2 linked regions of the Homo sapiens genome follow. The protein of the gene in region 2 purifies or fractionates together with the protein of the main gene of each other region. This does not show direct contact. Each region holds a gene or a part of one and is shown on either strand. Other genes may lie near its edges.

The links.
Region 1: the proteins of GRSF1 (region 2) and ACOT9 purify together in Homo sapiens (affinity purification with mass spectrometry, with the first as the bait; one study listed by BioGRID). This does not show direct contact.

The regions. Positions count from the first base shown.
Region 1 is NC_000023.11:23,732,979-23,736,776, reverse strand, and holds part of ACOT9 (acyl-coenzyme A thioesterase 9, mitochondrial isoform a precursor), read left to right. Parts: intron 1-760; coding exon 761-858; intron 859-2,409; coding exon 2,410-2,436; intron 2,437-3,559; coding exon 3,560-3,605; intron 3,606-3,798. UniProt on the Homo sapiens protein: Mitochondrial acyl-CoA thioesterase. Catalyzes the hydrolysis of acyl-CoAs into free fatty acids and coenzyme A (CoA), regulating their respective intracellular levels. Regulates both mitochondrial lipid and amino acid metabolism.
Region 2 is NC_000004.12:70,829,557-70,833,653, reverse strand, and holds part of GRSF1 (G-rich sequence factor 1), read left to right. Parts: intron 1-380; coding exon 381-536; intron 537-1,203; coding exon 1,204-1,347; intron 1,348-1,979; coding exon 1,980-2,115; intron 2,116-4,097. UniProt on the Homo sapiens protein: Regulator of post-transcriptional mitochondrial gene expression, required for assembly of the mitochondrial ribosome and for recruitment of mRNA and lncRNA. Binds RNAs containing the 14 base G-rich element.

The DNA of each region.
Region 1 (3,798 bases), on a different chromosome or scaffold from region 2:
TACAATCTTGGCTCACTGCAGCCTCGACCTCCTGGGTTCAAGTGATCCTCCCATCTGAGCCTCTTGAGTAGCTGGGACCACAGGTGCATGCCACCACGCCCGGCTAATTTTTGTATTTTTTGTAGAGATGGGGTTTTGCCATGTTGCCCAGGCTGGTCTTGAACTCCTGGGCTCAACCTGTCTACCTGCCTCAGCCTCCCAAAGTGCTGGGATTACAGGCCTGTGCCACCGTGGCCAGTAGATAGCTTTTATTTTATTGTGTTGGGACTCTAGAAAATTTCTGCGTAAGTTAAATAAATACTTTCTTTGCATCTGGAAAGGGCTAATTCAATTTTCAAAGTTTACTTTATAATTGGGTTTATCTTATTTATTGAGGAAATATGGTGCGATAATAAAGAACAGAATAAATTGTTCATAATGAGTTTGCTCAGTTGTTTACTAAATCGATTATGGACTTCTGAAACTAATAAAATAGAAAGACCAATAATAAATGCATTAAACCTAGTTGCCGTCTTTTATTTATTTTGTAGATAATTACCTAATTGGTCTCTGCTCTCAAGAAATGTTTACTCTAGTGGGAGAGATGATTTATGGAATAGCCTCATGAAAACATACATATACTTGTGAAACAGCTACAGACTCCTACAAGACAATATATACTAAGGGTGATATGGCCAGATACTCTGGGAGGAGGGTAGGTCTTTAGGGTTGCCAGGGAAGAAGCTGTGGGATCTGCTCTGTGTTTTATCTTGTTTTATAGGCTTTGTGCCTTGGGCAAAGGGCAGCTTACTCCTGGAAGAGGACTGACTCAAGGACCCCAGAACCCCAAGAAACAGGGAATCTTCCACATTCATGAAGGCAAGCATGGTGTCTCTGTTTGATGCCTATGTGGTGAAAAACCTTGTTTTACTTTTATTTGAAAGGTATATAGAGTGATAGTTTAGAGCAAATGAGGCATATTAAAGGTAGATCTTTCATAAACATTTCATTGACAAAATGACCAGGATAGCTGCATAATATTAATAGCTTCAGATAGAAGTCACATTCAGATTTTGAACTATTGTTCCTGGGAGCCTTGAGGACTGAGCTCTTTTAGTTAGGTGATTTCCACTTCCTGTGTGTAGGTTCTGAAGGCATGGAAAAAAAGAGATGGGCCCATTAGTTGTATCAAGTAAACACTCCTAGTCCATAGTTATGTTCGAGGGATCCTGTTAGTCCATGCTTAATTAAAGTTAATTTCAATTACCAATATGATACGTAAACTATGGATTGTCTTTATTAAACTAGGAGTATTCGTTATAATTAAAATTGCGGCTTCTTTAAAGGGTCCAAATAAATTTATATTATGTGTGTATATAAATATATATGTAAGTAAAATTAAAAAGTTTTTCCTTCTTGGCCCTCAATACTTGCCTCTCTTCTTACACTGATTAAGCTAGTAGTAATTATTTTATGTCAGTGAGCATCAGTAGTCCATGTACTATTTGAGGTACTTTCTGTCCATTCTTTTTTTTTTTTTTTTTTTTTTTTTTTTTTGGGATGGAGTCTTGCTCTGTCACCCAGGCTGGAGTGCAGTGGCAGGATCTCGGCTCACTGCAACCTCTGCCTCCCTAGTAGCTAGGATTACAGGCATGCTCCACCACGCCCAACTAATTTTTGTATTTTTAGGAGAGATGGAGTTTCGCCACGTTGGCCAGGCTGGTCTTGAACTCCTGGCCTCAAGTAATCTGCCTGTCTTGGCCTCCCAAAGTGCTGGGATTACAGGTGTGAGCCTTTTTTTTTTTTTTTTTTTTTTGAGATGAAGTCTCACTCTGTCGCATAGGCTGGAGTGCAGTGGTGGGATCTTGGCTCACTGCAACCTCCGCCTCCCAGGTTCAAGTGATTCTCTGCCTCAGCCTCCTGAGTAGCTGGGATTACAGGTGCCCACCATGCCAGGCTAATCTTTGTATTTTTAGTAGAGACGGGGTTTCACCATCTTGGCCAGGCTGGTCTTGAACTCCTGACCTCATGATTCACCCACCTCGGCCCCATCCATTCTTTTATTCAAGGAACTTAGGAGGAAAAAATCAGAAATAAGACTAAGTTACTAATGGTTGTTGTTTGCAGTTCTCTAACATTTAGTTGTAATTATACATCAAATTTATGGTGTATCCAAAATTGTTTGATAGAAAAATCAACCATTTTTCATGAAAGTTAAAATGCATGTTCATATAAATTATATTTGGTTTTGATCAGTTAGTTATTGAAGGACTGAGGATTGCTATAGTTAATTTCCTATAACTGGAATGTATATTTTGAAGTGCTAGGAAAAACACATAAACTCAACACAGTATTTGAAATACTACAGATTTATCTTTTAGTTTTGAATTATTGCTGGTTCTCTAATTGATTTTCCCTTTATTCATATAGCATGTTCATCTATACATGTGAATCATGGTGTGTGTGGTAATTAGTATCAGCTTTTCTTTTAAGAGCTTAAATTTTGTAAGCACTAATATACGCTTGCACTTTTGGGCAGTGGCATTAACTAAAATTGCATTCTTTGCCTTAGCTTGATGTAAGTCTTTGCTTCATTTTTCTGGCTTAAACTTTTCTAACAACCAGGAGACTATAAATATATGAGAAATTAATTATAATGAGACTCAGATTTGGATATTAGTATTAGTCTCTGAACTAAGTAATTTGATCTATTACTGCGTATAAGAAGATAGGTGGGGGCCAGGCGCAGTGGCTCACACCTGTAATCCCAGCACTTTGGGAGGCCGAGGCAGGCGGATCACCTGAGGTCAGGAGTTCAAGACCAGCCTGACCAACATAGTGAAACCCCATCTCTACTAAAAATACAAAATTAGCAGGGCATGGTGATGCCTGCCTGCAATCCCAGCTACTCGGGAGGCTGAGGCAGGAGAATCACTTGAACCCGGGAGGCGGAGGTTGCAGTGAGCTGAGATCGTGCTATTGCACTCCAGGCTGGGCAACAAGAGCGAAACTCTGTCTCAAACAAAACAAAACAAAACAAAACTACAAAAATTAGCCGGGTGTGGTGGCACAGCGCCTGTAATCCCAGCTACTTGGGAGACTGAGGCAGGAGAATCGCCTGAACCCGGGAGGTGGAGGATGCAGTGAGCCGAGATTGTGCCACCGAACTCTAGCCTGGGTGACAGAGTGAGACCATCTCAAAAAAAACAACAAAAAAGAAGATAGGTGGGAATCCTGTTCATATCTCCATCATAATGGCTCTTACTGGCTAACACTGATACAGCCCCATTAAGTGAATAATTGAAGTTATCCTTTTTTGTTTGTTTATATAAACCCTAGTGATTGGCACAAAGGTATTCATTTGTGCACCTTTAAAGAGACAGTATAGTTCTTTCAGGTTTTTAGGGAGCAGAGGCTTGATCCTGTCCCTGAGCTGTTTGTTGTGGCATTAAATGGAAATCTATGGATCTTTAAATCTTTTGAGTGCATGAATTGCTTTTTGTAGTTCTTGAGCTCATTGCCATAATCCGTTTCTCATATTTCTTTGTTTCATGGAATGACCTCTTTATTTTTGTTTCAGTTCGAGATAAGTTGCGGGAGATAGTAGGAGCATCCACAAACTGGAGGTATGCATCTTTGTTTTCATTCATTCTTTTCATCCCCAAGGTATTATACTACACTGTATTTAGGCTCAGTTGATGGTCTCACAGTGGGGATGGGGAGCCCTATGTTCAGAGATAGGTTGAGAAGTATTTTGCTTGGGGGAGAAGGTCAACATTTCAACATACTCATCAGATGACACCTCATTGTCATGAAAGA
Region 2 (4,097 bases):
ATATTTTAGAGACCTATGGAGATGATTTTAAAGGAAGACACTTATGTATAAATTTAACTATATTGTATTTCCTTAAGTGATTGTAGAAACATTGCAATAGAAATAATGAATTTTGTGTTGGGCCTATCCTGATTTGCTATTTAATGATCAGGAAGGAGATCATAAGCTTCTGTGCTAAGGTTTGCTTATCTTTTCTACTTGGAAGGTTTTAGAGACTAAATCCTTATTGGTGTTTGGATGACTTCAGTGATGGGGATTTGTGTAAGGAATATGACACTTGTTTCCTGCTTTGTTGTTGGAAAACTGCATTCTTGTGACTTACATAATTGAGCTAAAAGTTTGATTTCTGTTTTCAATTGATTTTGCTCATACACTTTTAGACTGCAGAATCCGCAACGGTGAGAATGGAATACATTTTCTCCTAAACAGAGATGGGAAACGAAGGGGTGATGCCTTAATTGAAATGGAGTCAGAGCAGGATGTGCAGAAAGCCTTAGAGAAGCACCGCATGTACATGGGCCAGCGGTATGTGGAAGGTATGTGAAGTCAGATTATGGCTTTTTGGGATCATTGCATTAGGTTTTATACTTTTCAAGGTAGTTTTTATTTGATCCTTAATAATGAAGTATTTAGATTGTATGAATGCATTCTTTTATAGGATGTGAAAATAAAACATAAAGAGATAAAGTTTCTTTTTTTTGTGGGGGGGATGGAATCTCACTCTGTCACCCAGGCTGGAGTGCAGTGGTGCGATTTCAGCTCACTGCAACCTCTGCCTCCTGGGTTCAAGCAATTCTCCTGTCTCAGCCTCCCAAGTAGCTGGGACTACAGGCACATGCCATGATACCCAGCTAATTTTTGTATTTTTATTAGAGATGGGGTTTTACCATATTGGTCAGGCTGGTCTCAAACTCCTGACCTCAGGTAATCCACCCGCCTTGGCCTCCCAAAGTTCTGGGATTATAGGCGTGAGCCAGTGTGCCTGGCCAATGAAGTATCTTACAAGCTGTGAGAAATAAAGAAGTTATGCCCGCATGGTAAATATGCAATAAATGTCATTTGTTATTTTCTCTAGAGAAGCGCATAAAGATTAAAATAGTTATTGAATTCTCAGATAACCCAGCAAGTTGTAATGATTTTTTTTAATGGGTTTGTTCCTTTGTTATGTAAATTTTTCATCCCTGTTGGGTTTTTTCTTCGTAGTATATGAGATAAACAATGAAGATGTGGATGCCTTAATGAAGAGCTTGCAGGTCAAATCTTCGCCTGTGGTAAATGATGGTGTGGTTCGTTTGAGAGGACTTCCTTATAGTTGCAATGAGAAAGACATTGTAGACTTCTTTGCAGGTACTTTGCAGTTGTATTATGCTTGGGAGCTCATATCTTTTTTCCCTTGGTATCTCCTTCTATATCTTAGATGAGCCTGTTTCTGGGCAAAGGCATGCAGTTATATTAGGTTCTTTAGGGGAGAGCTCTTCACTTAAATTTCTAATATTTATAGATTTTATATGTGTTTTTGTTCTATCAGGCAGATTTTAGGAGGGAAGTCAGATTTCAGAATAATTTCATGAGGGTTTTACTATTGAAGGAAATAACTTCTCATAATAGTTGCTGTATTTGTGTAAGACAATAACAATTTATATAATTTAAAAGTATTTTCTAATTCCTAGAACCATTAGCAGTGAAGTCTGTGATTTCTATTGTTTCCTAGTATATAATTAACAGCAAAAAAAAAAAAAAAAACTGGTGGGGAGAATTGTATGTTTTGGGTGGGCTTCTTGGACCTTACCTATTCTGGAAATACAAGTATGTAGGTGTTGACTGACTTTTGACTGCATAATAATTTTCTTCCTGTCAAGCATGTATTCAGTTTTGGGACTGGCAAAACAGAATAAAAATTTTATTAGTATGTGAATGATGGTGTTAATTCTAAGGATAAAAAAGCCTGCTAGTAGCATTAAAATCTCTTGGTGTCCTAGGACTGAATATAGTTGACATTACTTTTGTGATGGACTATAGAGGGAGGCGAAAAACAGGGGAAGCCTATGTGCAATTTGAAGAACCAGAAATGGCCAACCAAGCCCTGTTGAAACACAGGGAAGAAATTGGTAATCGGTGAGTAAAGCAGATACTAATGATGCAGAAGTGTTACACATTAAGTCATTTTGATGAATGTGCTGTAATATGACTGAAAAGTTATCCAAACATAGAAAAGTAGAGAGAGTAGTGTAGTGAGCCATCAAATGCCCATAATTTAGATTAACAATTTTTTTTCGACTGCTCCTTTTTTTTTTTTTTGAGACAGAGTTTCACTCTTTTTGCCTAGGCTAGAGTGCAATGGCACGATCTTGGCTCACTGCAACCTCTGCCTCCCTGGTTTAAGCGATTCTCCTGCCTCAGCCTCCCAAGTAGCTGGGATTACAGGCGCCTGCCACCATGCCCGGCTTTTTTTGTATTTTTAGTAGAGACGGGGTTTCACCATGTTGGCCAGGGTGGTCTCGATCTCTCGACCTTGTGATCCGCCCGCCTCGGCCTCCCAAAGTGCTGGGATTACAGGCGTGAGCCACCGCATCCGGCTTGACTGCTCCTTGTGGGGCAGGGACTAACCCATAGACAGAGTACCTAGAGCAGCTAGATTAACACATTTATATATAAAATGTAACATCTGTTATATTTGCTTCATCTGGGTTTTTTTTAGTATGCATCTTTTAAAAAAATTTTTTTACATAATTTCAATGTTATATCTAACACTGTTAGCAATAGTATATTATCTAATAACAGTTCATAATAGCATTTTCCCAATTATACCAAAAATAGCCTTTTTTTTTTTGGCAACGGAGTTTCACTCTGCCGCCTAGGCTGGAGTGCGGTGGTGTGATCTTGGCTCACTGCATCCTCTCTCTGCCTCCCAGTTTCATGTGATCCTCCTGCCTCAGCCTCCTGAGTAGCTGGAACTAGAGGCATGCGCCACCATGCCCAGCTAAGTTTTGTATTTTTAGTAGAGACAAGGTTTTACCATGTTGGCCAGGCTGGTCTAGAACTCCCGGACTCAAGTCATTCACCCACCTCGGCCTCCAAAAGTGCTGGGATTACAGGTGTGAGCCAGCACACCGGACAAAAATACAGAATCCAGATAAGGTCTACACACTGCATTTGATTGTTATGTCCATAATTCTCTGTGTGTGTGTGTGTTTTTTTTTTTTTTTTAAGACACAGGGTCTTATTCTGTCACCCAGGCTGGAGTGCAGTGGCATGATGATAGCTCACTACAGCCTTGAATTCCTGGGCTCAAGCAATCGTCTCGCCTCATCCTCCCAACTAGCTAGAACAATAGGCATGTGCCGCCACACCTGGCTGTGTGTATGTGTGTGTGCGTGCGTGCGTGTGTGTTTGTAGGTGGGGTCTTGCTGTGTTGCCCTGGCTGGCCTCAAACTCATGGGCTCAAGTGATCGCCCGCTTTGGCTTCCCAAAACGCTAGGATTACAGGTGTGAGCCACTGCACCTGACCACTGATTCTCTTGAACTAGAGCAAATCCCCCTTACTTATTCTTCCCCCCTTTTTAAAAGCAATTGACTTTTGAAGAAATTAGATCAGTTGTCTTGTACAGTATCTCATGTTGACATCACCTCAGGATGCACATGATGATAAGTGGGTTCATTTGTGTTTTAACTTTAACTTTGGAGGTACAGTTTAAAATGTCAAATGTTAAATCACTGTTTCGTTAATTTTTTTTTTTACTGTTTTCTGGCCTTTTAAATCAGCTCCTTTGAAGTAAACAAAACAGCCATTCCAAAGCCAGTGTTTCAGGATCTACTGATAGAAGTGGTTCAAAGGTTTTTTGGTTTTTTGAGACAGGATCTTGCTCTGTCACCCAGGCTGAAGTGCAGTGCCACAAACACTGCTCATTTCAGCCTTGACCTTCTGGGCTCAAGCAGTCCTGCCATCTCAGCTTTCCTTGTAGCTGGTACCACAGGCATGCATCACCATGCCTGGCTAATTTTAGACAGAGTCTTATTCTGTTACCCTCGCTGGAGTGCAGTTGTGTGATACAGCTCACTGCAGTTGTGGCCTCCTGGGCTCAAGCAATCCTCCCACT